Linked DNA regions of Homo sapiens. The protein of the gene in region 2 interacts with the protein of the main gene of each other region in a pairwise test. Each region holds a gene or a part of one and is shown on either strand. Other genes may lie near its edges. The genes, in order: TYR and WDR88.

Region 1 (16,331 bases), on a different chromosome or scaffold from region 2:
GTTTCAACAAATGCCAGTTTCTAGTTTGCCTTATACCTCATAACGTTCCTAAATCCTTTTATCCATATATAATTGAGAACTAGAACTGTTGAGTGACTTGTCTTAGGGCCATATGATATTTAGAGTCAAAACCAAAGCACTGAAACACAAGTTTCCTTATTCTGAAGCAATACCCACTACATTAATTATGACGTGTTAATGGCTTAGGAATGGTTGAATAAAACTAACCTAACTTTTACATTGAATGTAATATGTTGGATGCTTTTATAATTTGGGTTAACTGGACGCTACAAGTATGTAGACTAAATCATTTTTATTCCTCTTTGAGTAATCTCAGGATATTTTCAAAAGATCCTGCTGCCTTAAAGACTCCTACAGCCAACTCAGTTAAATTAGAGAGGCTTGAATGAAACTATTTTTGCTGAAATGCCAACTGCCAAGTGACTAAGTGTTCGGATGACTGGAGGTATTACTAACGAGGAGAAAATCTACCCTGGTTCCAGAAATAATTTGAAAAACTCCAAACCTTAGTCTTTACACTGCATACAGGAGAGGAGGCAGGCTAGGAGAAATTATATTAGCATTGTGCTTATGATCATGAAGATTCTAGTCAGAAAGACCTGGTTTCCAATACTGACCCTATTAGTTACATGGCCTTGGGCAAGTTACTTAAGCTCTCTGGGTATTAAGTTTTTTCATCTGTAAATGGGAATTATACGTTTCTATCAATGATCAAATAATCTAACATGTATAAAGCACTTAGCATAGTGCCAAGTGTAAAGTGTTTAATAATGACAACTATCATAATTATTTTTGAAAACAAGACCATTGGGCAGGTCACCAAATTGTTTTTAACTTTGGGTGTATAACACTGTTTGAATATTCATTATTATATCTAACTTTGATGTATCATTTAAAAATATATTATTTCCACACATGAAACTCAAACAATAGGTCAGATCCTAAACAAGCCATATAAACACATCTTATTGAATCCCTTCACAGTAATGCTTTAACCTATATTATTCTAATTTTAGGGACAAAAATCGTCTCAGAATAATTAAGTAACTTAGGGTCTTGTAGCTAAGTAAGTATGAAAGTTCACTCAAATTCATGCTGATGTGACTGAAAAGACTATACTCTTTCCACTACATTATTCTGTTTCCCATTCCATTTAATCCTCCTATTAGCACACACACAAAACATGTATAGATGGTAATTCTACCTCATTTTTTTTCTCTTTGGAAAAAACAAAGGTCAAAGATTTTAAATAACTGGTCCAATGTCGTCTACTAAATGGCAGGGGTAGAATTTGAGCCTGGATGTTCTGATGATGACTCTGTTTTTTTTCTATTTCAACGCAAGTGATTTATAACATATGCTGGGGGGACGATCAAGTGTTCCAAGTCAAAGAAAAAAGGGGAGATAGAAGAAATAGATATATTAATGAGGAAGGTGAACCTAAATACTGTTCTCTTAAATTTAAAGAAATAGCAATAAACTGCCAGATATTAAAAGCTTTTGGGAGCAAAGATTTTGTTATAGCATTAGAGGTTTATCTGGGGGAAAAAATGTAAACCGTATGACATTCCACAAAATCTTTTTCATAAAGAAAAAAGAGAAGCTGTTATTTCACTGAGCTGTCGTCATGGTTACCTAAAACCCATGACTCTCTGCTGAAATGTGACTTTTTTTCTTCTCTTTGCTTCCATGTGATGTGCTTTTCACCTGATGAGTGAATTCCCTGGTCACAATTCACTCATGTGTATCAGCTAGGAAATGTTTTTTCCTCTTTGTTTCTGTTCATGATGACACCTATTCCTGATACCCCTTTTATTTTTGTAGCTAGCTGATCTGTTGGTTGCATAACATTAGATCTAATTATATTGAGCATGGGTAGTTTGTACTTAAATGTTATTAAGCAACCCTCCACCTCCAAATATAATGAACTATTTTAATTGATGATAAACATGGCCCCTAATTTAAAGCTTTGGGAGTTAAATAAATGAGCAAACAACAGACATGAATTAGGAACACAATATTTCCAAATAAATTAATTACCTGATTTTAACATATTTAACAGAAAACTCTGACCAATAAATATTAACTTCATTTAAATCACACTCAGCTATGTTGCACCTTGCTTCATCTTCTCTCTTGTATTGTCTTTCTTTGCATGCACACACGCAGACATACATATGGAACTACCAGAGAGAACGACACAAGATATATTATACCCAAATTTGAGTAAGTGGCTATTGTTGACATTGTTGTATCCTTGGCATTGGGAATCCAGTGCTATAAAAAAACTGCAGTGAATGGTCCTAGAAATCTACCCATGCAGAGTTTAATATTTTATGTATGTTAGCATTGGAGCTAACGTTTCTTTGATGTTAAATTCAGCATGTATTTATAAAGCCTGTTCCATGTGTATATTATAGTCCTGTGCTCTGTGGATACAAAAATATTTAGAAATGATCACCACCTTGGAGCGACTGACAGGCTGGCAGATACAGACAGGCTGGAAAACCACTACATGTAATGAAAAGTTACAAGTGCTATGATACAAATCTGTATAAAGTACAATGATAGCACAAAGACGGGGAGAGGGTCAACTCTACCTGAGTAACAGAGGTGGATCAGTAAAAGTCTCAGAATATTTTCATTATGATATAAATTAAAAGGACTACATCACTGTGTCTGCCTATGTTGTCTGGGGCAGGACAATTTTAAGGGAGTCAACGTGATCAAATGTCAAATTATACACCCAGAAATTAGCGGGTTACTTGACCCCTTCTGAACCTAAATGGATCCTTATAAACAAGAAATAACATTGTTGACTTAAAAAGCACTGCAGTCAGAGCCGCTTGGTTTTAGTCCTCAGATGTGTGACTTTGGACAATCATCCTACCATTTTAGGCTTTTCTATAGTTTTTTAATAAAATGCACAGGTTACCCTAAATAAAATTGAAGATCTCTCAGCTCAGAGTTAATAAATGCTATCAAATCTCTCAAATCTCAATTTTGGGGTCAAGTAAAATGATATCTGAAACCAATAAAAAAAGAAGGCTTTATGTGAAAGGTGCATCAGCCTAGCTAATTTGGAAGGTCTTAACTCAATCTAGAAACTATTTGATCTCATCTCACACAAATAGTCTAGTTCTTAATTTAAGCATTCAATTTGGACAAAGGCATTCAAATTAATGGTGTGTTTATTACAGAACATGCGTTTTTGTAAAGTGAAAGTAAAAAGATACCAAAACAATCTCCATTAACTCAATGATTCTCAGTGCTGGCTGCACATTAGAATCACAAAATGAGGGTTTAAAAATGCAAACACTTGAAGGCCCAGCTTGATGGCTCAGGCCTGCAATCCCAGCACTTTGGGAGTCTGAGGCGGACAGATCACTTGAGGTCAAGAGTTCAAGAGCAGCCTGGCCAACAGGGTGAAACCCCATCTCTACTAAAAGTACAAAAAATTAGCTGGGAGTGGTGGCAGGCCCCTGTAGTCCCAGCTACTAGGGAGACTGAGGCAGAAGAATCACTTGAACCTGGGAGGCGGAAGTTGCAGCGTATGGAGATTGCACCACTGCCAAAAAAAAAGACTCTTGAACTTTACAACCTCACAGGAGACCACCTGAATCTGAATTTCTGGCAAGAAATTAGGTGCATAAAAACCTTGCAACAGTTTTTTATTTTTACTTTTTAAATGGTTTTTTGGAAGCTTCCTAGGTGATTTTGACATTGAGAACTCTGAATTAAAGCAATGTAAGCAATCGATCTTAACTATTTTAAGGACTTTGTAACCAGAGAGGCTGTGTGAAGGAATGGAAACAGCCAATGTGAGTGGGGTTTGACTGTCACCTTTGCCACTAATAAGCCCTTGACACTACTAAAACATAGTAGGTGAGCAGCAAATGCTCATTTCACCTTTCTTAAACTGTGGTTTGCTTGTTTCTCTTCAGTCATCTTCCTTCCACTCTGTTTTCTAATTTTATTTTTGAAACCTGTTTCTACACAGCAATTTAATCATAGAACAAGGTTGAAGTTGATAATTGTATCAATTTCAGTTCAGGGCTTACTGACTTGACACACTTTTTTTTTTTTCTAGAGAGTATTAAAATTGAACACATTCATGAAGAGAGAAAAAGGAAAAAGTTCTGCTTGACAATTAATAAGTAATTAGGAAAATAATACTCATACAGTTGTGGATAGCATCTGGTATTACACATCTCATGTAATTAAAAATTAATGTGTATCTATCTATTAAGATTTCCTGTGGATGTTGCAGCTTATTTTGGTAATTTAGACAGTCCTCCAACCTTTCTGGGTCAAGTTAAGCCACATAGTTAAATAAAGCATCATAACTGACTGAAAATCCCATGTCCAATCCTGGCAGTTTTTTAAACAGGAACAGAGGATATAAGAGCTAGATGAGAGTTTGCACATTATAGATTAAGGTAGGAGGTCTGAAAGCTTATTGAAATAGATTTTTTTCCAAGCACATTTTTTCTAGCCTTTCCTGCACAAAACCCATTACATTTGGTAAATAGCTGACTAATAACACCAGAAATTATACAGTGGCTATTTTTTAAATGAACTTCAGTAGACTCCATTGGGATGGGGTACAAACTTGGTTGGGCGGAGAAGGCCATCTACATTTCAAAACTGCAGATTGTGGGAAATTGAGTGCAAGATTCTTCCCATCCCATTCACATATTGGGCTTAATTTCATAGAGCATTGCTAGTCAAAAGTGCTGTATTAGAAATTTTTGGAAGACAGGCAGAAAAGCATTCCTTTAACATATGGTTTTAAAATGATAAATAATTAAGCACATATTTCTTTGGTTACCATTTGCCCCTAATTCAGAATGAAAAATTCAGAATAGATGAAATAGGAATTCAATTCCAAATAGTAATGCTTCATATTTTATCTAAAGTTTTCAAGGACTGAGAAAGAAAGCTAACTTCTAATGCAGCCTAAAGAAAAAGTGAGACAGAATGAACCAGATCCTTTAGCTAAAGATATCACAGCAGTCACATCCTTGGAAATAGGATACAGTGGTCATACAGCTGGACTATTAGAGAATAAATGTGATTTTTTTTTTGCTGCTTATTAGCTGTATGATCTTATACAAGTTACCTGATACCTTTATAACCTCTAAAATAGGGAAAGACTGATAAGAGCATGAAATGAACGAATGCACAAAAACACTTGCCACGGGGTTTGCACATGCTAGATGTTCAATGAATATTAGCCATCTTCATTATTTACCTGTTTAAGCCTCAGGATCTTCATACTTTCAAAAATGAAGATCTAATCCAATAATTATTTCCCAAACATTCCTGATTAAAAGAATCACCATAGACATTTAGTAAATTGTGCCTTCTCGGGACTCTCTCCTGAAGATTCTGACCAATTAGTCTGGGATAAGGCCAGGAATTTGCATTTTTAATTTGTACACCATATGAATCCTGTTGTGAATAATAATTTTATTTTTCAGAGACATTAGTGTATATCATTTGTTTTTTTAATCATCCAGATATTCATTCATTCACTCATTTATTCAATTCACAAAATACATAATGCACTATTGCCATTTTTAAAGGCACCATACTATGTTCTGGGAAATGCAATAATGAATCAAGTACTCTGTTCATTGCAGTTTAGAAACCTAGTAGAAGTCATTAAACAAATAATTACACAAATATCTAAAGTGTGCTATAAAGGAAAAATACAAGATACATTGAGAGTTCTTAACAGGGCACCATTTCTGTCCTTGATGGGGGCTGCAATGAGTGTTCAGGTGAGAAGTTTATACCCTGCCTGAAGAAGTGATTGTTAAGGTTCCTCCCTACTCTGACATCGTATATCTAGCATATCTTACCTGCCAAGAGGAGAAGAATGATGCTGGGCTGAGTAAGTTAGGATTTGTGGGGTGCTGACCTCCCATGTACTCATCTGTGCAAATGTCACACTTTTCTGCATCCCGCCAGTCCCAATATGGAATAGTGAAGTTTTCATCTCCTGTCAGCTTCTGGATTTCTTGTTCCCACCGCAACAAGAAGAGTCTATGCCAAGGCAGAAAAGCTGGTGCTTCATGGGCAAAATCAATGTCTCTCCAGATTTCAGATCCCCCAAGCAGTGCATCCATTGACACATAATAATGCATCCAGACAAAGAGGTCATAAATATTGATGTCGTTAAACATGGGTGTTGATCCATTTTTCATTTGGCCATAGGTCCCTATGGGGATGACATAGTCTGAGCTGATGGTATGCTTTGCTAAAGTGAGGTAGGCAAAAAATTTGTCCTTCTCTGGGGCACTCAAATCGAAGATGTTTCTTCTCACCAAGAGTCGTCTCTCTGTGCAGTTTGGTCCCCAAAAGCCAAACTTGCAGTTTCCACAGTTGAATCCCATGAAGTTGCCAGAGCACTGGCAGGTCCTATTATAAAAGACGGAAGGCCACGACTCCCGGTCATCCACCCCTGTGAAGGGAAATTGAGGCCCAAGTGGTGCATTGGACAGAAGGATATTCTGACAGGAACCTCTGCCTGAAAGCTGGCCACAGGGACTCCTGTCCCCGCTCCACGGTGGACAGCATTCCTTCTCCATCAGGTTCTTAGAGGAGACACAGGCTCTAGGGAAATGGCCAGCGGAGGTCTGGAAACTCCACAGCAGGCAGTACAAAACAGCCAGGAGCATTCTTCCTCTAGTCCTCACAAGGTCTGCAGGAACTGGCTAATTGGAGTCACAGATTTCTCTTTCCAGCTACTACTACAGTGATTATCACATGTCTTGGCTGAGACCTATATAATACCACTCCCACCTCCAGCATCAAACACTTTTAGTCTTTATCTTAAGCTTTCATCCTCTGAAAAGCACATGACTGACTTTTCTTTCGAATTGGCTCGTATCCCACCAGTGGGATAGGCCTATGTTAAAGTGAAAAACTCTATTCACCATTAATAGTTTAATTCTTATGGTTAGAATATTAACAATAAGGTTAGTAATAATAATGCCTGACCTAAGCAAACCCAGTTAATAGACTACAAAACTAATGATGATTTGACCTTGCAAATGAGAGGTAGTGTCAGGAATAGAGCTTCTCTTATTAAGAAAGTTTAGGAAGTATTAAAGATTATGGGTTTAAGGTAGTTATTTCTCAGAGACCATAAAGAGGCTACAATGTTTGAAGAACTCAATATGCAGAGAGAGATTGTCTTCAGAGCCCAGACAGAATTCCTTATATGTTATTGAATTTCAGTTTGTTTATTTTATACAACGTATCAGAAAAAAAAATCTTTCTGATACTTTTCTCTGATAATCCTGATGCATTTTCTGACAACTCCTAAGGATAGCTCACTTTGATAACTGGGCGATTTGCTTCATTGTGGGGATATCTCACGTTAAAGAGCTCTCTCTCTCTCTCTCCCTCTCTCTCTCTTTCTCTCTCTCTCTCCCTCTCTCTCTCTCTCTCTCCCTCTCTCTCCCTCTCTCTCCCTCTCCCTCTCTCTCCCCTCTATCCTCTCTCTCTCTCCTCTGTCTCTCTCCTCTCTCTCTCTCCCCTCTATCCTCTCTCTCTCTCCTCTGTCTCTCTCCTCTCTCCTTTCTCTCTCTCTCCTTTCTCCTCTCTCCTTTCTCTCTCTCTCCAATGCTGTAGCCATATTGTTTTTCCTATCAATTCTAGAAATTAGGAATTTTTTTGAAAATGTTTTTGCAATGTGTTTTGTGCAAAGACATTCTCAATTAGTGAGTGAATGAAAAAGGAGAAATATATTTCTTCAGCAAATATTTTTGATCATCTCAATTATTTCAAAAGTTCCTTCTCTGTGTATAGTGAGCTAGGGAAACTGAAATTCATGGCTAAAAATACAACTTAACTATGTTAGTTTTCAAATGAGTAGTATAGATAATTAAGTCAAACTTTTAATGGAAGAGATGTATTTGTGGGCTGATATTAGAAAGAATTGCATAATTTTGATAATAATATGCAAGTGTTATCAAGGGAGTGCCTTGATTAATATCTCAAAGAGTGGGCATAAGTTGGACAGACAACTGAGAATATATACAACTCCTGAGACAGGGGAAATGTGTAGAGGTGGGAACTGTGTTTCATCTATCAAGTTGGAGCATTAAACTGAGGCCTCCACACATCATAGAAAATTAAACCTGGGACCAATCTATGGAGGGGCTTAAAGACTTTGTGTTTTGAACTAAAGTGAGCTCTTTTGTGAGCTGAAGAGTGACAAAAAGAGTAGTCAAATCAAAGTTGCCCCTCTGAAGCTTCCTTCTTTGTCCTCTTCCATACTTAAAGTTTGGGGGTCCACTGAAATTAATGAAAAAGTAAAAGAAAGTGAAAGCTTTGAGGAGATCATTAGTATTTGGGTCCTTAGCTGAAGCATTCTAGGAAAAGCCATCACTATTTCGATGATGCCGGAATGTCAGACTGCTCTGCTTTTTTCTCTTTTTCTGGAGTTTGTCTCATTATTTAAGAAAAAAAAAAGTCACGGCTCATCCAAACAACTTTTTTGAGACAGAACAGGCTTTGCAGGTACATGGAGCAGTGTGTGGGTGAAGAGGAAGAGAAGTTTCCATGGAAATGCTGCCTCTGGCTGGAATCAGGAAGTCATCACATGATCTCCACAAGGAGGCTTAATCTTTTCTCTCTCTCTTTCTTTCAGAGCCACAAAGAGATTAACACAAGACTTCTTGTCCCTGGGGAGCCTTGGGTCTGCATTACTTGTAACCACATGTGGCATTTCATAATTCTTTTCTATGTTCTCGAAGACAGAATTCAACTTATCATGTTCAATTTAATTAAGAATTTTGCCTTACACTTGCCCCACTATCAGGCTTCCAGTGAAATAACTTAGAAAGTCTTCATCATGCTCTTTAAGGGCTTTTGTGTCTGCTGTCCCGTCTATTTTTCATAATCTTTAGAGCCTGCTTAGAGGAATTACTAAAATGTACTTAGTCCTATTAATTTCCTTTACAGGGTTGATTTTCTTAAATAGGACAGACCTCTTTATTTGTCCCCAGTATAGGCCACTGTCTCCTCTGGCCTACACGTGTTGTAGTCTTCAGTCTTATTGCCAGTCTTGGGTTCCTAAATATTAAATCCCATTTAGAGTGCTTTCTTCCTGACTCTAGATGTACATTCTTTAGGTATCTTCAGTTGTGGGATTTGAAAGGGTCCTATCCTATTTTGGGAGATTATTGTATGACCTGACATGAAATTACTGCAATGCTCTATAAAGTAGAATTAGGGGTTCAGTAAATACTCTGCAAGTATTTACTTGCAGACATGGGGAGAGATGGGAATGTGATGGTAAGCACAACAAAAATCTCTATCATCAGGAAGGATATTGCCTCTTAAAATACTATTTTAATTTTAGTGATTTTAAATAATAATTTTAACTACATTACTTTAAATAACTTTTTTTCTGGATTAAATTACTTTTTAGGTTGCTATAAGAGAAAATTAAAGAGAGAAATTAGGGAACATGACAGAAGGGCCTTTCTAGTCTCACAAGAGAAGGGATAGTCAGGGATAATTTTATGGGAGAAGTGACATTTCAAGTGACACTTGAGGGATCACTAGAAGTCTGTTTGATGACAGAGAGAACAGTAGGAGTGTGAGCTTTCCAGGCAGAGAGAATAGCATGTGCAAAGTCTCCAAAGTGGAAGTAGGTTGGTATATTCAAGGGATTTAAGGACAGTTAAGGTGGCTGCAACCCCCAATATGGTAGAGGCGTGATATAAGAATGAAGGTGTGTGTATGGACCAGCTCATAGTCCATAAAGGCTTTGTAGCAAAATTTTGGGTAACGATACATGAATTTAAAACTTTTCACTCAAGCTACTGAGGTGAGAACAGATGTGGGGTGGGAGCTAGATTAAATGTGGAGATTACTGTTAGGATATTATTGATGTAAACCAGGCAAACATGACATTGCTTAGACTAGAGTAATGATCTCTGAGATGGGCATAAGTTAATGAATTTGAGAGATACATAGGTGATAAATTCAAGAGCAGTAAGAAGTGAAGGGAAAGAAGATTTAGGGCTATGTGCTAGGTTTTTGGCTTGTGCCATTAACTAAAATAAGAAACAATAGAGGATAAATGTTTATGGGAATTGAATATAGGCTCAATTTTAGATAAGTTGAGTTTGAGTATCAACTAGCCACAATCACTGGTCCTCTACTTCTGGTATTTGTATAGATTATTCAGCCACTCACTTGTGTTAACCTGGTCAATTTTCCTCATTTTCCTCACTCAGATCACTGGTATTTGCTCTTTTATTTGGTAGTAGTTTGAATCCATTTTCTGTCTTTGTTTCTCAGCCCTCCTTTCAATTATAATGGTAGCTACCATTTATTAAATACAACTAATATAATTATCTCAGTATCAGTAGCTACCATTTAAAGAAAAAAATTTACTGTGGAAAGAAATATGCTCAAATCAGTAAAAAATAATATAATAAACTAGCATTTACTTACCTCCAAGTTTCAACATCCAGCATTTTTCTGTTTTGTTTCTACTAGTTTAAAAATTCTGGAATGTTTTAAAACAAAACTCAGATAGCATATTCTACCTCTAATTTCGGTATATATTGCTAACAATTAAGAACATAAAAACAAAACCACGTATCTTACACAAACACATCTCAAACAAAAAGAACAATAATTCTTTAATATCAGGTATCAAATTTATGGTTAATTTACTTTAATTATCTCAAAAGTATTTTTGTCAAGATTCAAACAGGTATATACACTGCATTTTGGTTGATCTATTTTATCAATTTCTATTAAGTTATAAGTTTCCTTTTTTAAAAAAAAATGCGGCCGGGCGCGGTGGCTCACGCCTGTAATCCCAGCACTTTGGGAGGCCGAGGCGGGCGGATCACGAGGTCAGGAGATCGAGACCATCCCGGCTAAAACGGTGAAACCCCGTCTCTACTAAAAATACAAAAAATTAGCCGGGCGTAGTGGCGGGCGCCTGTAGTCCCAGCTACTTGGGAGGCTGAGGCAGGAGAATGGCGTGAACCCGGGAGGCGGAGCTTGCAGTGAGCCGAGATCCCGCCACTGCACTCCAGCCTGGACGACAGAGCGAGACTCCGTCTCAAAAAAAAAAAAAAAAAAAAAAAAAATGCAATTTATTTTTAGAGGAAACTGAGTTTTTGCCCTAAGGATTTCTCACATTTCGGGGTTAACAACTTTTATCTCTATGAATTTAACATGCTCATTATCCTGTATTTTCTATCATTTTATACATTTTCAATAATAATATCTTGCATTTTCTACAATCAGGGAGTTAGATCTAGAGATTTTATTATATACAAGTTGAATTTTGTTATTGCTTTTCTTAACAATTACTTCACAGGCATTGTTAAGTAATACTTATTTTGATATACTAGAGGACCATATTATCTGGTTTTCTCAGTATTTGTTTTTAAAATTTATCAGCAGCTTGAAGTGATGTCAGACTGTCCTTTCAATTACATAATTCTCTAGCAAACTTTTATATGGTTTTATTTTCACTGATAAGTATATCCTACATTTGGTATTTTATTAAAGGTTGCAAGAATGGTTATCCCCTTTTTTTTGTAAAGAATAACTTTCTTCATGAACTATTTAGTTACCCTGTACAAGAAAAGCGGGGTAAATGTTTGATTCTTGTCCTTCATTTTTCAATTTTCAGAATAATAATGTGGCTACCTAACAACCTCTAAACATGATATATTTTTAACTGTAGTGAAGACTTCTAAAGTTTTGTGTATTTAGTGCATTTCTTTTGGGAGACAAATTGATGCATTTGTGTTCAATATTTTGCTAATTAGTGGATATTAGTCAACCTACATTATGATTTGTGAGTCAATGATCATTATGATTATATTTGTGTGTGCACGTTTGAAGTTCAAGAAAAAAATATGTAGCCATCATCTCTTTATATTTGAAGTTTACACTCACTCATTTGTTCAATAAATATTGAACATCTATTATTCCTAACACCTTATGGTAAATACCTGGGGCATAAACAAATTGTATAAGTCACTGACCCTTAATTTGATGTTATGAAGTCAGAATCTCTGATGTAATATCCAAGGACTGCCAGTTATTAGTCTCAGGCCCCATGGCAAGAGAAAAGGAGGAAGAGAATCAGCATATACTTAAGATTTGTTCAGTAATTTCACTTATCACAACCTGAGTGTTCTCAACTCTACTAGACAGGACTATTTGGAGTTTCAAATAATTTAATAGATATTAAACATTCAATATAAGGTCTGACACATATTAAGTACTTAATAAATGTTCACCATTTTCATTAAAGACCATAAATTGGTGCTGTTAGTGTTTATCACTATAATGCTTTCAATACTTTTAGGCTATTTTTGGTCTAGAGAGCTAGGGAATAAGTATTTTATTGGATATAATTAAATATCATTGTTTTAAATTGGTCTCTCCTTCTCATGTTAGCAACCTCAATTGCCTTTTTTTCTCCAATTAAAACCTTGTTCCTTAGGATACTGAAGTTCTGCAATAACACTGAGATGTCATACTTCTGTAGAATTTAGAAATTAGCACATGTTCTTTCTCTTAACAAACAATGTTTTTCTCTTTTATTCACTTGCATAATTTCTACACATACTGTAAGATACATCTCAGGTGTCATAGCTTCAAGAAAGCATTTTCTGATCTACAGACCTTCTCTGAGGATAAGCTGGAGGACTATCTTGCATTTTCTCATTCTACCCTCAATTAACCTTTGTCATTGCACTCACCACAATGCATAAAATCTACTGATATTTCTCATGCCCTTTCTATATCATGAATCCTTTAAGAGTAAAAATGTGATTCACACCAAATGCCTAGAACATTGCATGTTAAAAAATATCTTAGGAGATGGAGAATGGATGGATGAGTGAATTAACAGTTCAATTTCTTCTTTTGTTTTCCTTATTTTGTAAAATACATGTTCTAAAATATTTCAAACATGCAGAAAAACATAAACAATAAGCACTCATGAATTCATTACTTATTTAATAAATTTTAAAATTTTAGACTAATGGATGCACTTTTAAGATCACATAGTATCATTTCGGACACACGAAAAATAAAGCTAGAGGAGGAAAGGTAAAAGTATGAATGAGACTAGCTCTTACATTGAATGAAGTGTCATGCAGGGCAGAACCCATCCATACATTCAGCATAGAGCAGAGAAGATGAGAAGGCCTAATATGAGAAGAGACTCACAGAACAGAATTAGGGATGAATTATACCAGAATCTTGGTAGAAGTCTAGCTAGAAGGAGGAGACAAGTGTTTACCTAGGATTTATTCAACTGTCATTTTCATTCCACATTATTTATTGGATGTCTACTTTGAGATGGGCATTTTGCATGCATTTTTTTCTGATTCAGTCTTCAAAACAAGACTGTGAGGTACATATTGTATCCCTTTATAGTTAAATAACCTGATGTTTATGCTTAAGATTAAGCAACTACTAAACTGCAGAGCCATGTCTTTCTGCGTACTTCCATGTCTCACAGATATTTTCATTGTGTTATCTTCCATGCTAATGTTAGTTTTACTTGCTGATTGCATTTGGACTATACTAATCCTGCTTCTAGTTTTAGACTTCATACTTTTCATGTTCTATATTCTCATATCTGTTCTGAATGTCAGCTTTAGTTACTTGGCTACATTTTTGATAGGCTTCTAGAATACAGATGTGTCTTTAGCCACCCTCTGCTCCAGTTTCAAAGTGTTCTTTGTAAGTGACACAACCTCAATCATGCACTAAAGCTCCTCCTAAAACTGATCCTCATAGGTTGTTGAAGTGTTAAGAAAATTGTGGTCGCCACAATGTTGAATGACTTATATTTTTTTTTTGCTTCAGTTGAACTGTCTATAATTATTTTAATGGCAGAGGGTATTGATCTCTGGGAAGCCAATTTCCTGATTACATATATTCTACTACATGCAGAACTAGTTTTACTATCACTTAATGCCTATACCACTTGTAATTAAAATCTATTAAAATTATTTAAATAGCATTACCAAAGAGCAAAATATGCTTTATAAGAACAGCAAGAATAATCTAAGACACGTTATGGAGAAAATGGGCTAGCAGGAAAATATAACTGTAGAGTTGAAGAATGGCTGCTGAGAGACAGCACAACCTCGGATGAATTCAGAACAGAACTAGCTGATGAACCAAAATGTAGAACTAAAATGTACAACCTTCACAAGTTTAAAAAACCAACTCATTTTAATGTCAATAAACTGTACAGATCCTCTAGGAGAAAGCACATGGCTTTCAATATTTATTGAATATAAATAATGACACAAACTGTCAGTAAAGTAATTCTCTTATCTCAGAGCTCAGAACATGATACCCCCAAAGGATGACTTCCTGGTGTGCTGAGTATTTTCAGCTGAAGGAGATTGGGAGTGCCACAGAAACAAGAAGGTCTCTCTGCCCTTCCCCTGGCCTCTTTTTCTCCCTCGAAGTGGGTCATAGAATCCAGAACTCCCCAAAGCAAGCCATAAGACCTGGGAAGGTCATTCTCTGACCTCCTTCCTTTTCCCCAGAGGACCTTCATGTGACAGGTGGGTCGTCAGGGGGAGAAGGCCTTGCTTGTTTAGATTCTTCTTTACCCCAGGGGCCTAATTCTGAGCATTACAATCTCTGTATCATAGAGATAATTAGACATTCAGGCACAGTAGGAGTTGCTTAGGCATAGACAAAGGACAACAGGTTTTGAGTAGACAATCAGAAATTGTGAATTGTGATAGGGACTCAGATTTCGGAAGAAGTAGTTTCAACTCTCAAAAGTTTAAAATTTCTAACAAATTAGCAAAATTAACATACCTCCTATGATGAAAAGAAAATAATCTCAGTGATTAAGCTTCAAGTGATATCTTTTCAAATAGATGCACCAAATATTGTTACGCAAGTCAGTGGTTGAAAAGCATATTTACCTAAATTATCAATATCATGCTTATTTCTCACTCACCTTTCTCCAAATACTTACATAAATTGCCAAACTAAGTTTGGGTTTACAGAGATATTTACCTGTTAAATTAAGTTTAGCTTAATGCTGCCTCCTTACATATTTTAAGTTCAGCCTAAAGGTATCTCCCTACAGGTAAACTGAAACCTAACTGGATGTGTAAACAGACTGTAATCTACTCTTATGCTAAACACCATGTTTTGGCCAATCAAAGGTGGCCAACTGTTCAAACCGTGTTCAAATAAGGCAAATGCCAAGCTATAACCAATTGAGCTGTTTCTGTATCTCACTTCCATTTCCCATACTTCACTTTCCATTTTCTGTGGCTGTACTGGAGTCTCTCTGAGCCTTCTCTGGCTCAGGAGGCTACCTGATTTACAAATTCATTCTTTGCTCAATAAAACTTTTAAGTATAATTTGCCTAAATTTGTCTTTTAACATACCTGATGTCAACTTGTGTGCCTCCCTTAGAGTTCAGCCTGCCCTGCCTATCCTCCTAAGCTTATTTAATGTGGCGCTTAACCTGATGGCCTGTTGATTGCTCACAAGATTAATTTGCCCTGAAACATTCCTTTTCATCATCTCACACTCTTATTTCTGAACAAATTTACAACCATTATAGAAAACATTTATTTAGACACCCAGTATGAAGTACCACATCCAGAGTTCAGATAAAATATGAGGCAGTGACTATTTTTAAGGTGTCAGAACAATATGCATTACTTCCCTTCCTTCATTTAATCAAACAATTGTTTATTTAATGTTAATTTTTGTGCCAAGCCATGTGCACGACAACAGACGATAACAGTGACAGATGAGCATGGTCCTTGTCCTGGAGTAGTTCACAGCCTGGTAAGGAAGTCAGAGAAATCAAGAGACAATTTCAGGACAGTTTATTAAGTGCATATTGTTCAAAATATGGAATGTGGTATCAGTCAGGGCCCTGGCAGGAAACAGCTGACGCACTGAAGCTGTTTTTTTGAGAAGGGCTTAACAAAGAGACTATTTACAATTTTGGGAGTAGGGTTTAAGGAATCAAACAAGTAATCACGCAGTACACTGGGAATGAAGGGCAAGGGCAATGAACAATTGAACTGGAACACAGAGAAGATCACTGTATCGACTGAGCCTGCTGGCAGGATCTGTGGCCTTACAGAAGGATGCAGGCAACCACTGTCTACATGGCAAAGAGAGATTTGAGAACTAAATATCCTGACCACAGAAGTCACTTTCTTCTGCCCTCTGATCTTCTAGTCATGCACCTCTGGGGATGAAGCCAAGCTCAAGCCAGAGGAGCAAGAAGCCTACTGAT
Region 2 (15,760 bases):
TTGTAAATGGAATTGCTCTTCCTTTTCAGAGTGTTCATTGCTGGTGTATAGAAACACAACTGCTTTTTTGTGTGTTGATTTTGTACCCTGAAACTTTGTTGAATTCATTTATTAGCTTTAGTAGCTTTCTTGTTAATTCTTTGGGATTTTCTATATTTACGATCATGCCACCTATGAATAGAAATAATTTTGGGGCCGGGCACGGTGGCTCATGCCTGTAATCCCAGCACTTTGGGAGGCCGAGGCGGGTGGATCACGGGGTCAGGAGTTCAAGACCACCCTTGCCAACATGGTGAAACCCCATCTCTAGTAAAAATGCAAAAATTAGCCGAGCATGGTGGCACATGCCTGTAATCCCAGCTACTCGGGAGGCTGAAGCAGGAGAATTGCTTGAACCCAGAAGATGGAGGTTGCAGTGAGCCAAGATCATGCCACTGCACGCCAGCCTGGGTGACAGAGCAAGACTCCATCTCAAAAAAAAAAAAAGAAAGAAATCATTTTGGCTGGGCATGGTGGCTCACACCTGTAATCCCAGCACTTTGAGAGGCCAAGGTGGGCAGATCACTTGAAGTCAGGAGTTCAAGGCCAGCCTGGACAACATGGTGAAATCCCGTTTCTACCGGGAGAATTGCTTGAACCCAGGAGATGGAGGTTGCAGTGAGTCGAGATTGTGCCACTGCACTCTAGCCTGGGTGACAGAATGAGACCCTAGAAAGAAAGAAAGAGAGAAAGAGAGAGGAGAGAGGAGAGGAGAGAGGAGGAGAGGAGAGAAGAGAAAAGAGGAGGGAAGGCAGGAAGGAAGGATTGAAGGAAGGAAGAAAGAAAGGACAGAAGGAAGGAAGGAAGAGAAGGAAGGAAGGAAGGTTGGGAGGGAGGGAAGGAAAGGAAGAGAATTTTACCTCTTCCTTTTCAATTTGGATGCCTTTTATTTCTTTTTCTTGTCTGATAGCTCCGGCTAGCACTTCCAGTACAATATTGAATAGTAGCAATGAAAGTAGGCATCCTTGTCCTGATCCTGATCTTAGGGAAGAAAAATTTTAGTCTTTTACCACTGAGAATCATGTTAGCTGCAGATTTTTTCTAAACACTCTTTATCATGTTGCGGAATTATCCCTTTATTCCTAGCTTTCTGGGTTTTTTTATTATTATAATGAAAGGGTTTTGAATTTTTTCAAATGCCTTTTCTGTGTCAGTTGAAATGATTGTATAGGGTTTTTTTTCCCTTTGTTCTATTAATGTAATATATTACATTGATTTTATGTTGAGCCACCCTGTATCCCTGGGATAAATCCCACTTGGTCATGGTAAATAATCCTTTTAATGTACTGTTGGATTTTATTTGCCAATATTATGTTGAGCATATTTGCATCTATATTAATATGAGATATTGGTCTGTAATTTTCTTTTATTGTCATGTTTGTTCTTGGCTTTGGTATCCAACTTGTGCTGGCCTCATAGAATGAAGTCACTGCTTTACATTAAATATAAGTAATATGTATTTAATCAATCCTATTTTATTTGTGTTCTCTTTTTTAAACAGTCTTACCTCTATATATCTTAAGAATATATAATATAACCTACAAAATTTATTATTTATTTATTGGAGACAGGGTCTAGCTCTGTCACCCAGGATAGAATGTAGTGGCATGATTGTGGCTCACTGCAGCCTCTGCCTCCCATGCTCAAACCATCCTCCCATCTCAGCCTCCTGAGTGAGTAGCTGGAACTACAGGTGTGCGCCACCACTCCTAGCTATTTTTTGTATTTCTGGTAGAGACAGGGTTTCACCATGTTGCCCAAGCTGGTCCCAAACCCCTGGGCTCAAGCAGACCTCCCACCTCTGCCTCCCAAAGTGCTAGGATTACAGGCATGAGCCACTGCGCCTAGCCAAAAGTTTAAATATTCAATAATTTTTTTTTAAAGAGACAGGGTCTCACTCTGTCGCCCAGGCTGGAGTATAATGGCATGATCACAGCCCGCTGCAGCCTCAACCTCCTAAGCTCAAGCATTCCTCCCATCTCAGCCTCCCAAGTAGCTGGGCCTGGAGTAACTGAGAATATAGGCTCATATCACTATGCTTGGCTAATTTTTTATAGAGACAGGGTTTTGCCACGTTGCCTAGGCTGGTCTCAAACTCCTGAGCTCAAGCTATCTGCCTGCCTTGGCCTCCCAAAGTGCTGGGATTACAGACGTGAGTGGCCACCACACCCAGCTTTTTTTTTTTTTTTTTTTTTTTGAGACCACAACCAGTCTCACTGTTTGGCCCAGGCTGGAGTGCAGTGATGCCATCATGACTCACTGCAGCCTCGACCTCCCAGGCTCAAGCCATCCTCCCACCTCAGCCTCCCAAGTAGCTGGACCTGGAGTGGCTGGGACTACAGCCACACACCACCACACTCGGTTAATTTTTTAAAGTTTTTCTGTAGAGATAGCGTCTCACTATGTTGCCAAGGCTGGTCTCCAACTCCTGGACTTAAGCGATCCTCCCACCTTAACCTCCCAAAGTGCTGGGATTACAGGCATGAGCCACCATGCCCAGCCAAGATTTTTTTTAAAGTAACACTAAAGTACTGTATCAAAGAATAGAAAGAAACATAATTTTTTTTTTTTTTTTTTTGAGACAGAGTTTCGCTCTTGTCACCCAGGCTGGAGGGCCATGGCTTGATCTCGTGATCTCGGCTCACTGCAACCTCTGCCTCCCGGGTTCAAGCAATTCTCCTGCCTCAGCCTCCCGAGTAGCTGGGATTACAGGCACCTGCCACCACGCCCGGCTAAGTTTTGTATTTTTAGTAAAGACGGGGCTTCACCACGTTGGCCAGGCTGGTCTCGGACTCCTGACCTCAGGTGATCCACCCGCCTCGGCCTCCCAAAGTGCTGGGATTACAGGCGTGAGCCACTTCACCTGGCCAATATTTTTATATTTTTCTCAAACATATTTGTTTAATTTGCCCTACTGTTAATTACTACTAATTGTCGCTGTTCACTAGTCCTGTTGTTTTGCTTAAATAATAATATTCATGGAACAAAAAAGTAAAAAATATAAAATAATGTATAATTTCAAGTAAACCTTTACTTCTTATTTTTATATTAAAGTAGTAACATATAGGCATATAATCTTTTGCTATATATTGTATTATTATGGGTTTGTTGTTTTTTTTTTCTGATATGTTTGTATTCCAAGTTGGCTCTCTGAAAAGTTGATCATGCTAGGCAGCGCCTCTCCCACAGTCTCCTGGATTTAGAAACCTCTAGCCTAGAACATGACATGCTCAAATAAAGGGGTCCCCGACCCCCCAGTCTGTGGCCTGTTAGGAAATGGGCCACACAGCAGGAGGTGAGCAGGGGTGAAGCTTCATCTGTATATATAGCTGCTCCCTGTCACTAGCTTTACCACCTGAGCTCCACCTCCTGTCAGATCAGTGGCCACATTAGATTCTCACAGGAGCACGAAGGCTATTGTGAACTGTGCATGCAAGGGATCTAGGCTGTGTGCTCCTTATGAGAATCTAATGCCTGATGATCTGTCACTGTCTCCCATCACCCCCAGATGGGACCATCTAGTTGCAGGAAAACAAGCTCAGGGCTCCCACTGATTCTACATAATGGTGGGTTGTATAATTATTTCATAATATATTACAATGTAATAATAATAAAGTGCACAATAAATGTAATGCTCTTGCACCATCCCAAAACCATCCCCCGCCCCCCAACCATGGAATAATTGTCTTCCACGAAACTGGTCCCTGGTGCCAAAAAGGTTGGGGACTGCTGCTCTAATATGGGTGGAGGGCGGAGTAGGTCCCCACTTCTCCGGGGTTCACACCTGCAGGACAGCTGTTGGGATATCCTGGGCTGGCTGCTATGTGCCAGTGGAATGGGAATCTCAAGATGCAGTGCTGCAGGAAAGGGAGACCCCCCCGGACCTTGGGCAGTGTCAAAGGCTTATCCATGAGTTGATGCTTTCCCTTCAAGTCCCCCATTGGCTCCATTGCTCACTGATCCAGCCAGACTCTTTTTCCAACAAAGTTCAAATGTCAACGGTACAGACACAGAAATACCTGGAAACTCCAAACTCATCGCGTTTGCGCATAGAAGGACATGCTGTCCACATTCCCAGGCAGCTCCGTGAACACGATGGCCCGGTCAGGTACAGCTCACCGAACCCACCCAGGAATTTTATACTTGGCAATAACTCTTCCACTATCACCAATCCTGGCGAACGTGATCGATATTGTAAGCTTGACCACTTTTACCTTGGAAGCAGACAGGATCCATTTCTTGTTGTTGCTAATGGCAACATCCATCACCCAGTCATTATGGCCCTGAAGAAATATCAAATTTTAATGAAAACGTGGAGAAAATAATTTTGAAAGAACAACAAAAACAAGCTGGGTGTAGTGGCTCACACCTGTAACCTGCCTTTTGGGAAGCCGAGTCGGGAGGGTCACCTGAGCCCAGGAGGTGGAAGCTGCAGTGAGCCATGATTGCACCACTGCACTTCAGCCTGGGCAACAGAGTGAGGTCCCATATCTAAAAAAACAACAAAAAGTCAAGAACCCAGTGTTGCTTACATTTAAGAGTAGCTGGCTGAGTGCAGTGGCTCATGCCTGTAATCTCAGTACTCTGGGAGGTTGAGGTGGACAGATTGCTTGAGTCTAGGAGTTTGAGACCAGCCCGGGCAACATAGTGAAACCCCATCTCTACTAAAAATACAAAATATTAGCCGAGCATGGTGGCATGCGCCTGTAATCCCAACTACTCAGGAGGCTAAGGTGGGAGAGTCACCGGAGCCCGGGGAGGTTGAGGCTGCAGTGAGTCATGATCATGCACTCCAGCCTGGGCAACAGAGTGAGACTGTCTCAAAAAAAAAAAAAAAAGGAAAGAGCAGAGCAGCTCATTGTACTTCCTCGGTTTCATCAACAACATTTAGGGTGGAATACAAAGTGTAAAGACATGTGATATATGTACATTCTATTTTTTTTGTTGTTGTTGTTTTTTGGGGTTTGTTTGTTTGTTTGTTTTGAGACAGAGTTTTGCTCTTGTCGCCCAGGCTGGAGTGCAATGGTGCAATCTCCACTCACTGCAACCTTCACCTCCTGGGTTCAAGCAATTATCCAGCCTCAGCCTGCCAAGTAGCTGGGATTACAGGTGCCCATCACCATGCCCAGCTAATTTTTTTTTTTTTTGAGACGGAGTCTCGCTCTGTCACCCAGGCTGGAGTGCAGTGGTGTGATCTCGGCTCACTGCAAGCTCCGCCTCCCAAGTTCACGCCATTCTCCTGCCTCAGCCTCCCGAGTAGCTGGGACTACAGGCGCCCGCCACCACACCCGGCTAATTTTTTGTATTTTTAGTAGAGACGGGGTTTCACTGTGTTAGCCAGGATGGTCTCGATCTTCTGACTTCGTGATCTGCCTGCCTCGGCCTCCCAAAGTGCTGGGATTACAGGCGTGAGCCACCACACCCCACCTAATGTTTGTATTTTTAATAGAGATGGAGTTTCACCATGTTGGCCAGGCTGGTCTCGAACTCCTGACCTCAAGTGATCCACCTGCCTCAGCCTCACAAAGTGCTGGGATTACAGGCATGAGCCACTGCGCCCTACCCATTCTATATTTATTTATTTAGTTATTTTTATTTGACACAGGGTCTTACTCTGTCCCCCAGGCTGGAGTGTAGCAGCTCAATCATAGCTCACTGCAGCCTCAACCTCCTGGGCTCAAGTGATTCTCCTGCCTCAGCCTCCCGAGTAGCTGGGACTACAAATGTGTGTGCCACTGTGTATGGTTTTTTAAAATAGTACTCGGGTGTTTAGCAAGATTGGGGGAGAAATATTATATTCCCAGCTGGTCTCAGGTTTTCATTTGCATTCTTTGTTCTAGGAAATACCCCTCAGAGGCCCTGTAAGTGAGGGGGCTTTTCGCTTCCAATAACTGCAAACTCGATCCACTGTGGCTTAAGCAGAGAAGGAGTGGGGTGTTTTCTTTGGGTACATAGGAGCTCAGAGCAGGCCGGGCGCGGTGCTCCATGCCTGTAATGCCAGCACTTTGGGAGGCCGAGGCGGATAGATCACGAGGTCAGGAGATCGAGACCAGCCTGGCTAACATGGTGAAACACCATCTCTACTAAAAAATAAAAATTTAAAAAAAAAAAATTAGCCGGGCATGGTGGTGGGCACCTGTAGTCCCAGCTACTCAGGAGGCTGAGGTAGGAGAATGGTGTGAACCCAGGAGGCGGAACTTGCAGTGAGCCAAGATCATGCCACTGCACTCTAGCCTGGGCGACAGAGCGAGACTCCCGTCTCAAAAAAAAACAAACAAAAAAAACAGCTCAGAGCAGATAGCTGCCATTGCTGCCTCAGACACTGAATGATGTCTGGGCTTTATGCCAGCATCTCTGTCCTTCTTTGGCCTTCCCCGTATGGAAAGAGGCAGAAAGTGAGGCCATAGTGTGGTTAGAGAAAAAGGAATCAGAGGGAAGGTTAAACCGCTTAGTGTAATTAAAGGACAGGAATTTGAGGATGGGAGCACAGAGAAAGAGGAGAGAAGAGGAGAGAGAATAGAACAACCGGCTCTGTCACCCAGGCTGGAGTCCAGTGGTGCAATCTCAGCTCACTGCAGCCTCTGCCTCCCAGGCTCTAGAGATTCTTATGCCTCAGCCTCCCAAGTAGCTGGGACTACAGGTGGGCATGACCACACCTGGCTAATTTTTGTATTTTTAGTAGAGATGGTGTTTCACTATGTTGGCCAGGCTGGTCTCGAACTCCTGACCTCCAATGATCCTCCAGCCTCAGCCTCCCAAAGTGCTGGGATTACAGGCATGAGCCACTGTGCCTAGATGACAGAGGGACTTTAAGCACAGAGAGGTTTAACATTCCATTTTAATCCGTTTATTTGCTGTGAGGAAACTCGCTTTGTCTCCCCAAGTCCTAGGAGAAGACAGCTCAGATAGACCAGCCCCAGGGACCTGAATATGGGCTGCTCAAGGACACATGTCTACTTTGTGTCCCTGGGAACAGAAAGACCAAGAATCAGGGATGCACGCATTCACAGCCAAAGGTGACAGTGAGATCGTGAAACCAGGGAGTATGCAGAAATCCTGGGGTGTGGGGCCCCTTGGGGGAACAGGGGCACAGCATGAGGCAATTGTGGGTTCTTGCTGTGTTGGATAACACATCCCCGTATCATAGAGCCACTCTGAGTTGGGGCTCCTCTCATCCTCTCACTTGTAGCCCAGAGCATTCAGTTGACATCCCCATTTTGGAACCCCAAGCTTTCTGTGCATGCCTCACTAGGGCATGCGTCTCTCTTCAAGGTAATTTCTGTTTTTTGTTTTGTTTTGTTTTGTTAGAGACAGAATCTCAGTCTATCGCCCAGGCTGGAGTGCAGTGGCACAATCTTGGCCCAGTGCAACCTCCGCCTCCCGGGTTCAAGCGATCCTCCCACCTCAGCCTCCCAAGTAGCTGGGACTACAGGTTTGCACCACCACACCCGGCTGATTTTTGTATTTTTAGTAGAGACGGGGGTTTCACCATGTTGGCCAGGCTGGTCTCAAACTCCTGACCTCAGGTGATCCGCCCACCTCAGCCTCCCAAAGTACTGGGATTACAGGAGTGAGCCACAGTGCCCAGGCCTGCACAGTAACTTCTGCTGTTCTTAGACACTCCCACCTCAGGGTTTTTGCATCAGCTGTTCCATCTGCCTGGACTGCCCTTCTTCTTCAAGATCCCCACTTATGTAGTCCTTTCTGTTCTCAGCTCAAACACCTCCTTCTCCAGGAAGCTCTGCCCATGCAATGTGGATGGGTCCCCCGCCTCTGTCCCCATCATGTCACCCTGTTGTGGTTTCTCCATTTCACTCCTCACAGTCGGTGGTGTGTTTGCTGGCTTCCTGTCTGTCCTTCATCAGCCCACAGAGGCATCAAGGCCTGTGTCACTCACAGCTGTGTCCCCAGCAACCAGCATTGAGCACAGGAAGGACTCGGGAGGGAAGTTCAGATCCTCAATCTCATGCTGGCCACATGTACCTTCAAAGAGAGCTTCCGGTAGCCTTCTGCTACATCCCAAATAGCCACAGTCCTATCAAACCCTCCAGAAATGAGAAAAGAGCCTGCAACAGAAAATGAAAGGGTGGAGATGGGGGTCAACTTTCCAAGCCAAGTGAGCCCAAAGCCAGCTGAAGATGCCTTGGCGAGGCACCACCTCATCTCACTCTGACAACACTGAAACCCCTTCCTGGAGTGGCTCCACGACCCCAAGCCAATTACAGCTGATTCTTATCATTTACAGTAGTCATGTTCTATGACAGGGGTCCCCAGTCCCTGGGCCACAGACTGGTACCAATCCATGGCCTGTTGGGAACCAGGCCACCCAGCAGACAGTGAGTGGTAGGCAAGCAAGCCAAAGCTTCATCTGTATTTACAGCCACTCCCCATCGCTCGTATTACCACCTGAGCTCGGCCTCCTGTCAGATCAGCTGCAGCATTCGATTCTCACGGGAGCATGAACCCTATTGTGAACTGCGGATGCGAGGGATTAGGTTGTGCACTCTTTATGAGAATCTAATGCCTGATGATCTGTCACTGTCTCCCATCACCCCCAGATGGGACCATCTAGTTGCAGGAAAACAAGCTCAGGGCTCCCACTGATTCTACATGATGCTGACTTGTATAATTATTTCACTATATATTACAATGTAATAATAATAAAAATAAAGGGCACAATAAATGTAATACACTTGGGTCATCCCGAAACCATCCTCCACAGCTCCCATTTGTGGAAAAGTTGTCTTCCATGAAACCTGTCCCTGGCGCCAGAAAGGTTGGGGGCCTCTGCAGTTTTTGCAGACACTGAATTAGTGAATACTGAACCATCGCTCCTAGGGGAAATACAGGGTCAGTTTCCTGCGAGCTCTGGTCACATTCTCATCAGTTGATCAGTACGTAACTTTGTTTTATGTGTGTTTCTGTTTAAAGACACCTTATTGCATATATACTGTTGATTTGTTTACATTGAACTCACAACCAACAGCTGTAACTCATGCCTGAATGGATGCATGCATTTTCCCCATCATAGCACTCTCGCGCTTAGGAACGGCAAACAGCACTTCGGCACTGTGGTTAGGGATCATTTTATTTGTTATTTATTTATTTATTTATTTATTTATTTATTTATTTATTTATTTATTTTTAGAGATAAGGTCTTGCTCTGTCACCCAGGCTAGAGTGCAGTGATGCAATCAGCTCACAGCAGCTTCAAACTCCTGGTCTCAAGCAATCCTCCCACTTCAGTTACCAAGTAGCTGGGACTACAAGCAGGTGCCAGCACACCTGGCTAAATTTTTTTTTTTTGTTTTGGTAGAGATGGGGTCTCACTATGTTGCCCAGGCTGATCTCAAACTCCTGGGTTCAAGCAATACTCCCGCCTCAGCACCCCCCCAGCACTGAAATTAAAGCTGTGAGCCACCACACACGGCCAAGGGAGCCATTTTACACAGCAAAATCACTAACAAAAAGCAAAAGAAAGCCCAGGTGTGGTGGCTCACGTCTGTAATCCCAGCACTTTGGGAGGCTGAGGCAGGCAGATCACATGAGGACAGGAGTTCAAGACCAGCCTGGACAACATGGCGAAACCCCATCTCTACCAAAAATACAAAAATTAGCCAGGCATGGTAGTGCGCACCTGTAATCCAAGCTACTTGGAAGGCTGAAGCAGGAGAATCGCTTGAACCCAGGAGGCAGAGGTTGCAGTGAGCCAAGATCGCGCAACTGCGCTCCAGCCTGGGCAACAGAGGGAGCAAAACAAACAAACAACAACAAAAAAAAATGGTGGCACTAAATAGACCACAAAAAGGACATTTTACCACGTGGGAGGTGAAACAAGAAGGCAGAGTGTTGCCTTGTCCAACCTCAGCTGGGAGGTGACTTAGATTTTTTGCTGCTCTTCACATCTGTGAGTGACCTTGAAAGTGCCATGAATGTTGACTTTAGGTTTACAAATAAATATCAGCAAGTAGGTGACTTCACAAATACAGAATCAGGAATAATAATGATTAACTGCATGTGATTCTTTTTTTTTTCTTTCTTTTTTTCTTTTTTTGAGACAGAGTCTCACTCCGTCACCCAGGCTAGAGTGTAGGAGCGCAGTGGCACAATTTTGGCTCAACTGCATGTGATTCTGAACCCCATAAAGCCAAGGACAGAAGCTGGCAGGGTGCCTCACAGTGGGACTTAGACAAGGGGTGCTGCTGAAGAGGGAAAGTTGCCCAGAAGCACCCTAGTGCTTCTCAAGCCAGGCCCCAGTGGCATGTGTGCCAGCTGAGGCCCCCAGACACACAGAGCAAGCCCCACTTCTCACCAGGATAGGGGAGCATATGTTTGGCTCCTGAGTGTCAAGAGCACCCACTTCCCTCCCTGGAGCTGGCTAGCCGCGGTGGCTTCCTGTCACTGCCCCCATTCACCTCTATGTCCCTTTATCTGGCAACAGCTCCCAATTTCCTGTGGGGAAACACTCCTTGCCTACTCTTAGTCCCTCTGCATCAGGGGGTTCTGACCCCAACCCTAGCTCTGCAGGTGGGCAAGTCACCCAGACCTGGCCAATCAGAGGCTTTCGTTGCCCCCTAAGTGATTCATTAAGAGATGGACATGTGTCCCAAGCTGAGCCAATGGGAGTCTTCCCTGGGACTTGTTCTGGCACCATCAGACAGAAGGTCTCTTTCTCCAGGACTGCCAGGGGCCAGAACTAGGCTGAGCTGGACCACTAAAGGTCCTCTTTACCTCTTTAATTTTATATATATATATATATATATATATATATATATATATATATATATATATACATACATACACACACACACATACATACATATATACATACACACACACATATATACACATACATATATATATACACATATATATACATATATACACATATATACATATATATACACATATATACATATATATATACACATATATATACATATATATATATATACACATATATATACATATATATATATATTGAGACAGAGTCTCGCTCTGTCACCCAGGCTGGAGTGCAGTGGTGCAATCTTGGCTCACTGCAGCCTCCGCCTCCCGGGTTCAAGCGATTCTCCTGCCTGAGGCTCCCGAATAGCTGGAATTACAGGCATCCACCACCACACCTGGCTAATTTTTGTATTTTTTAGTAGAGATGGGGTTTCACCATGTTGGCCAGGCTGATCTTGAACTCCTGACCTCAGGTGATCCGCCCACCTCAGCCTCCCAAAGTGCTGGGATTACAGGCATGAGCCATTGTGCCTGGCCTTTTTTTTTTTCTTTTTAGACACAGGGTCTCACTCTGTTGCCCAGGCTGGAGTGCAGTAGCACAATCATAGCTCACTGCAGCCTCAAACTCCTGGGCTCAAGTGATCCTCCCACCTCAGCCTCTTGAAGAGCTGAGACTACAGGTGTGCACCACCACACCCAGCTAATTTTTTAATTTTTTTGTAGAGACAGGGTCTTGCTGTGTTGCCCAGGCTGGTCTTGAACTCCTGGCTTCAAGCAGTCCTCCCACCTTGGCCTCCCAAAGCATTGGGATTACAGGCATAAGGCACCTCATCCGGCCATCTTTGCCTCCTTGGGGGTAAAGGCTGATACAGAGGGAAGCTAGGTTGAAAGACAGAGTGGAAGGGTTGGGTTCCCAACAGCATTGACTCTCTTGTCCCATCCATGCCTGAAGTCAGACGTGCTCTTGGACTTTTCCATTACAGGATTAATCAATTTCTTTGGTTGCATACGCCACATTGAGCTGAGTTTCTACCACTGTAAACTGGTACCTGTGGTCTTCCCTCTTGGGTTTTTTGTTCTCGTGGGGAAGAATCCGCCCTCCCTGTCAGCATCATTGGAAATTGCCTCTCTGTCCATTTGAACGGAACATGGAGAACTCTGCCCAGCACTCCCACAGGAATGGAGGCCTTCTGCATGTTAATTACTCACTGTCTCTGGCAAAGTGACAGGAACTGACAGAACCTTCATGGCCCTGCATCAGAGTCACACAGGCTCCACAGTTTCGAAACTCCCCTGTGTGGACGTTCCATATTTTTAAGTTTTTATCCCAGGAGCTTGTACACAGGAAATGGCCACTGAAGGTAAAACAGCAGTTTGAGATTGCATTGGAATGTGCCCTGAAACACAGATGGTGGGGTGCACACATTAGCGCTTTGCTCCTGGAGGACCTGAAGACATACCTAAAGCCGGGGGTATTTTCTCCTGTGAGCTCATGGTCGGGCTGCACATGCTAGCACTTCGCCCCAAGAGGACCTGAAGACATACCTAAGTGGGGGTCAGCATCTCCTGTGAGCTCATGTTCATCATGCCTTTGATCACTGCCTACCATGGTCCAGATGTGAATTGCTCAGACTGTCACGCTGTTCCAGCATTTCTCGACTGCACCAATTTTTAGAAAAATAATAATAGAGACAGTGTTTCGCTATGTTACCCAGGCTGCTCTCAAACTCCTAGGCTCTAGTGGTCCACCTGCCTTGGCCTCCCAAAGTAGTGCTGGGATTACAGGCGTGAGCCACGGCACTGGGCCAACCACACCAAGGTGGACATTTTGAGCTGGGTCACTCAGAGTTGTGGGGGCCGTCCTGTGTTCTGTAGGAGGTGGAGCAGCATCCCTGGCCTCTCCTGGCTAGATGCCAGGAACCCCCACACCCAGTTGTGACAACAAAACATGAGTCCAGACATTGTCAAATGTCCACTGGGGCACAAATTGCCCTCATTTGGGAAGATTCTGCAGTATTCCCTTGGCGCTGGAGGGAAAAGCAGCTGGTGTCAGGAGTGATTGATTGACAGACAGCCTTTGGGGCTTGGTGCTGGGTGGCGCTTACACAGAGGCTCTCTCCTGCTCCCCATCTTTCCCCCAACAATGTCAGGCGTGGTCTCCCCCTGTTCCACCCCTCTCTTACTTACTCCTCTGCTTCTCCACCCCAACTATTCACTCTCCCTTTTTCTCACTCCTATCCTCATTTGTCTTCAGTGCTATTCAAGTATATTTCAGTGTTGTATATTTAATTAATAAAATTGTGGGTTATTTGGCTGGGTGCAGTGGCTCATGCCTATAATCCCAGCACTTTGGGAGGCCTAGGTGGAAGGATTGCTTGAGCCCAGGATTTTGACACCAGCCTGGGCAACATAGCAAGACCCCATCTCTACAAAAAATATAAAAATTAGCTGGGCATGGTGGCACATGCCTGTAGTCCCAGCTACTCTGGAGGCTGAGGCAGGAGAATCACTTGAACCCAGGAGGTGGAGGTTGCAGTGAGCCAAGATTGTGCCATTGCACTCCAGCCTGGGCAACAGTGCAAGACTCTATCTCAGAAAAAAAATGAAGTTATTCATTCCAATTTTTAAGCATCTTCTTTTTCAGAAAAATAATAATAATAAAAAGCCTGTCTGTATTTTGCCACTTTTTGTTTGTAACCCTCAATGTCTTTCTCCTGTGATTCTCACCTCCTCTTGTAAGCAGAGTTTTCTCTGAGTAGCCTGGATCATAAAATCAATCATTTGACCTGAAGAAAAGGTTGAGCAAAACAATTTTCTAGAGCTCAGATCAGAGTTTTGGAACCCATTTTGGTTCTTTGAAAGGCACAAACTGAGCAACGCCAAAGGAGAAGAAATGTCAACTTCGCAGGGCCATCCGGGATAAACCTCACCAATTCCCAGTGCCTGGTGAGCTAAGAACCATGCTGGCATATCATGGAGGTTTGACTGCAAGCTCTCCCAGCAGCCAGACACTGTCATTGAGGTTTAAACCAGAGGTATACCCAGAGGATTATAAATCATTCTTCTATAAATACACATGCACACGTATGTTTATTGCAGCATTATTCACAATAGCAAAGACTTCGTGTCAACCCAAATGCCCATCAATGATAGACCGGATAAAGAAAATGTGGTACATATACACCATGGAATACTATGCAGCCATGAGAAAGAATGAGATCATGTCCTTTGCAGGGACATCATCCTCAGCAAACTAACACAGGAACAGAAGACCAAACACCACACGTTCTCATTCATAAGTGGGAGTTGAACAGTGAGAACACATAGACACAGGGAGGGGAACATCACACACTGAGGCCTGTCAGGGGGTGGGAGGCAAGTGGAGGGAGAGCATTAGGGCAAATACCTAACACATGCGGGGCTTAAAACCTAGATGACGTGTTGATAGATGCAGCAAACCACCGTGGCACATGTGTACCTATGTAACAAACCTGCACATTCTGCACATGTGTCCTGGAACTTAAAGTAAAAAAAAAGACATAGCAATTTCTAAATAAATAAATACATAAATAAATAAATAAATAAACCAGAGGTATCTCTATGGACTCTCATTTCACATAAATCCCACTTCTCGTAGAAGGCCATTTCACCTGTACAGAAGTTTGGGGAAAATGGCTATGCTGCACGTACAGTTCTGGACAAGATGGAGTCAACTTTAAAAGTAATTTTTTTAAATGGCTGAAATTTTACCAAATTTGGCAAAATATATAAACCTACAGATTCAAGAATCTGAGTAAAACCCAACAGGATAAATCCAAAGAAATCTACACCCAGACACATAATTACACTTCAGAAAACTAAGGACAACAAAAATATCTTCAGAGCAGCAAGAGAGAAATGACTTTTTACCTATAGGAGAAAAACAATATGAATGACAGTGTAAATGAAAACCACAGTGTGGCCAGGCACTGTGGCTCATGCCTGTAATCCCAGCACTTTGGGAGGCCGAGGTGGGTGGATCACAAGGTCAGGAGTTTGAGACCAGCCTGGCCAATGTGGTGAAACCCTGTCTCTACTAAAAATACAAAAATTAGTTGGGCATGGTGGCGGGCGCCTGTAGTCCCACCTACTCGGGAGGCTGAGGCAGGAGAATTGCTTGAACCCGGGAGGCGGAGGTTGCAGCGAGCCGAGATTGCACCCTGCAAATGATATAGCTGATCTTGCTAGAGGATTTAAAAAATTCATAATGTCGGTCGGGCTATATCATTTTCAGTTCTCAGTGCAAAATTAATAAGCAAGATCCCCACTCCTGAAAAAGCTAAGCACAGTATTACCATATGATCCAACAATTCCACTCCTGGGTATACAGAGTAAAGAATTAAAAACAGGCCAGGTGCAGTGGCTCACACCTGTCATCCCAGAACTTTGGGAGGCCAAAGTGAGAGGATCACTTGAGCTCAGAAGTTCAGGACTAGCTTGGGAGACATAATGAGACCCCGTTTCTGCAAAAAAAAAAAAAAAACAAACTTAAAAATTAGCCAGGCATGGTGGTGTGCACCTGTAGTCTCAGCTACTCAGGAAGTTGAGGCAAGAGGATCACTTGAGCCTAGGAATCCGAGGCTCCAGTGAGCTATGATCACGTCACTGCACTCCAGCCTGGGCAACAGAGCAAGACTCTGTCTCGAAATCAAATAAAATAAAAAGAATTGAAAGCAGGAACTCAAAGTTACATGTACATGTGTTCATAGCAGCATTATTCCCAATAACTAAAAGGTAGAAACAGCCTAAGAGGTCATCAACAGATGAACAGATAAACAAAATGTGGTATGTACACCTATAATGCAGTACTATTCAGTCATCAAAAGGAATGAAGTTCTTAATCCCAGCACTGTGGGAGGCCGAGGTGGGTGGATGACAAGGTCAGGAGTTTGAGACCAGCCTGGCCAACATGATGAAACCCCGTCTCTACTAATAATACAGAAATTAGCCAGGT

Evidence for each region.
Region 1: the proteins of WDR88 (region 2) and TYR interact in binary tests that used the Homo sapiens proteins (3 or more experiments, as listed by UniProt).

What each region holds. Positions count from the first base shown.
Region 1 is NC_000011.10:89,168,330-89,184,660, reverse strand, and holds the start of TYR (tyrosinase precursor), read right to left. Parts: upstream 6,787-16,331; 5' UTR 6,708-6,786; coding exon 5,889-6,707; intron 1-5,888. UniProt on the Homo sapiens protein: This is a copper-containing oxidase that functions in the formation of pigments such as melanins and other polyphenolic compounds. Catalyzes the initial and rate limiting step in the cascade of reactions leading to melanin production from tyrosine.
Region 2 is NC_000019.10:33,152,759-33,168,518, reverse strand, and holds part of WDR88 (WD repeat-containing protein 88), read right to left. Parts: intron 12,427-15,760; coding exon of another isoform or gene 12,363-12,426; exon of another isoform or gene 12,339-12,362; intron 12,165-12,338; coding exon 11,977-12,164; intron 8,749-11,976; exon of another isoform or gene 8,106-8,748; coding exon 8,023-8,105; exon of another isoform or gene 7,864-8,022; intron 4,323-7,863; coding exon 4,254-4,322; intron 1-4,253.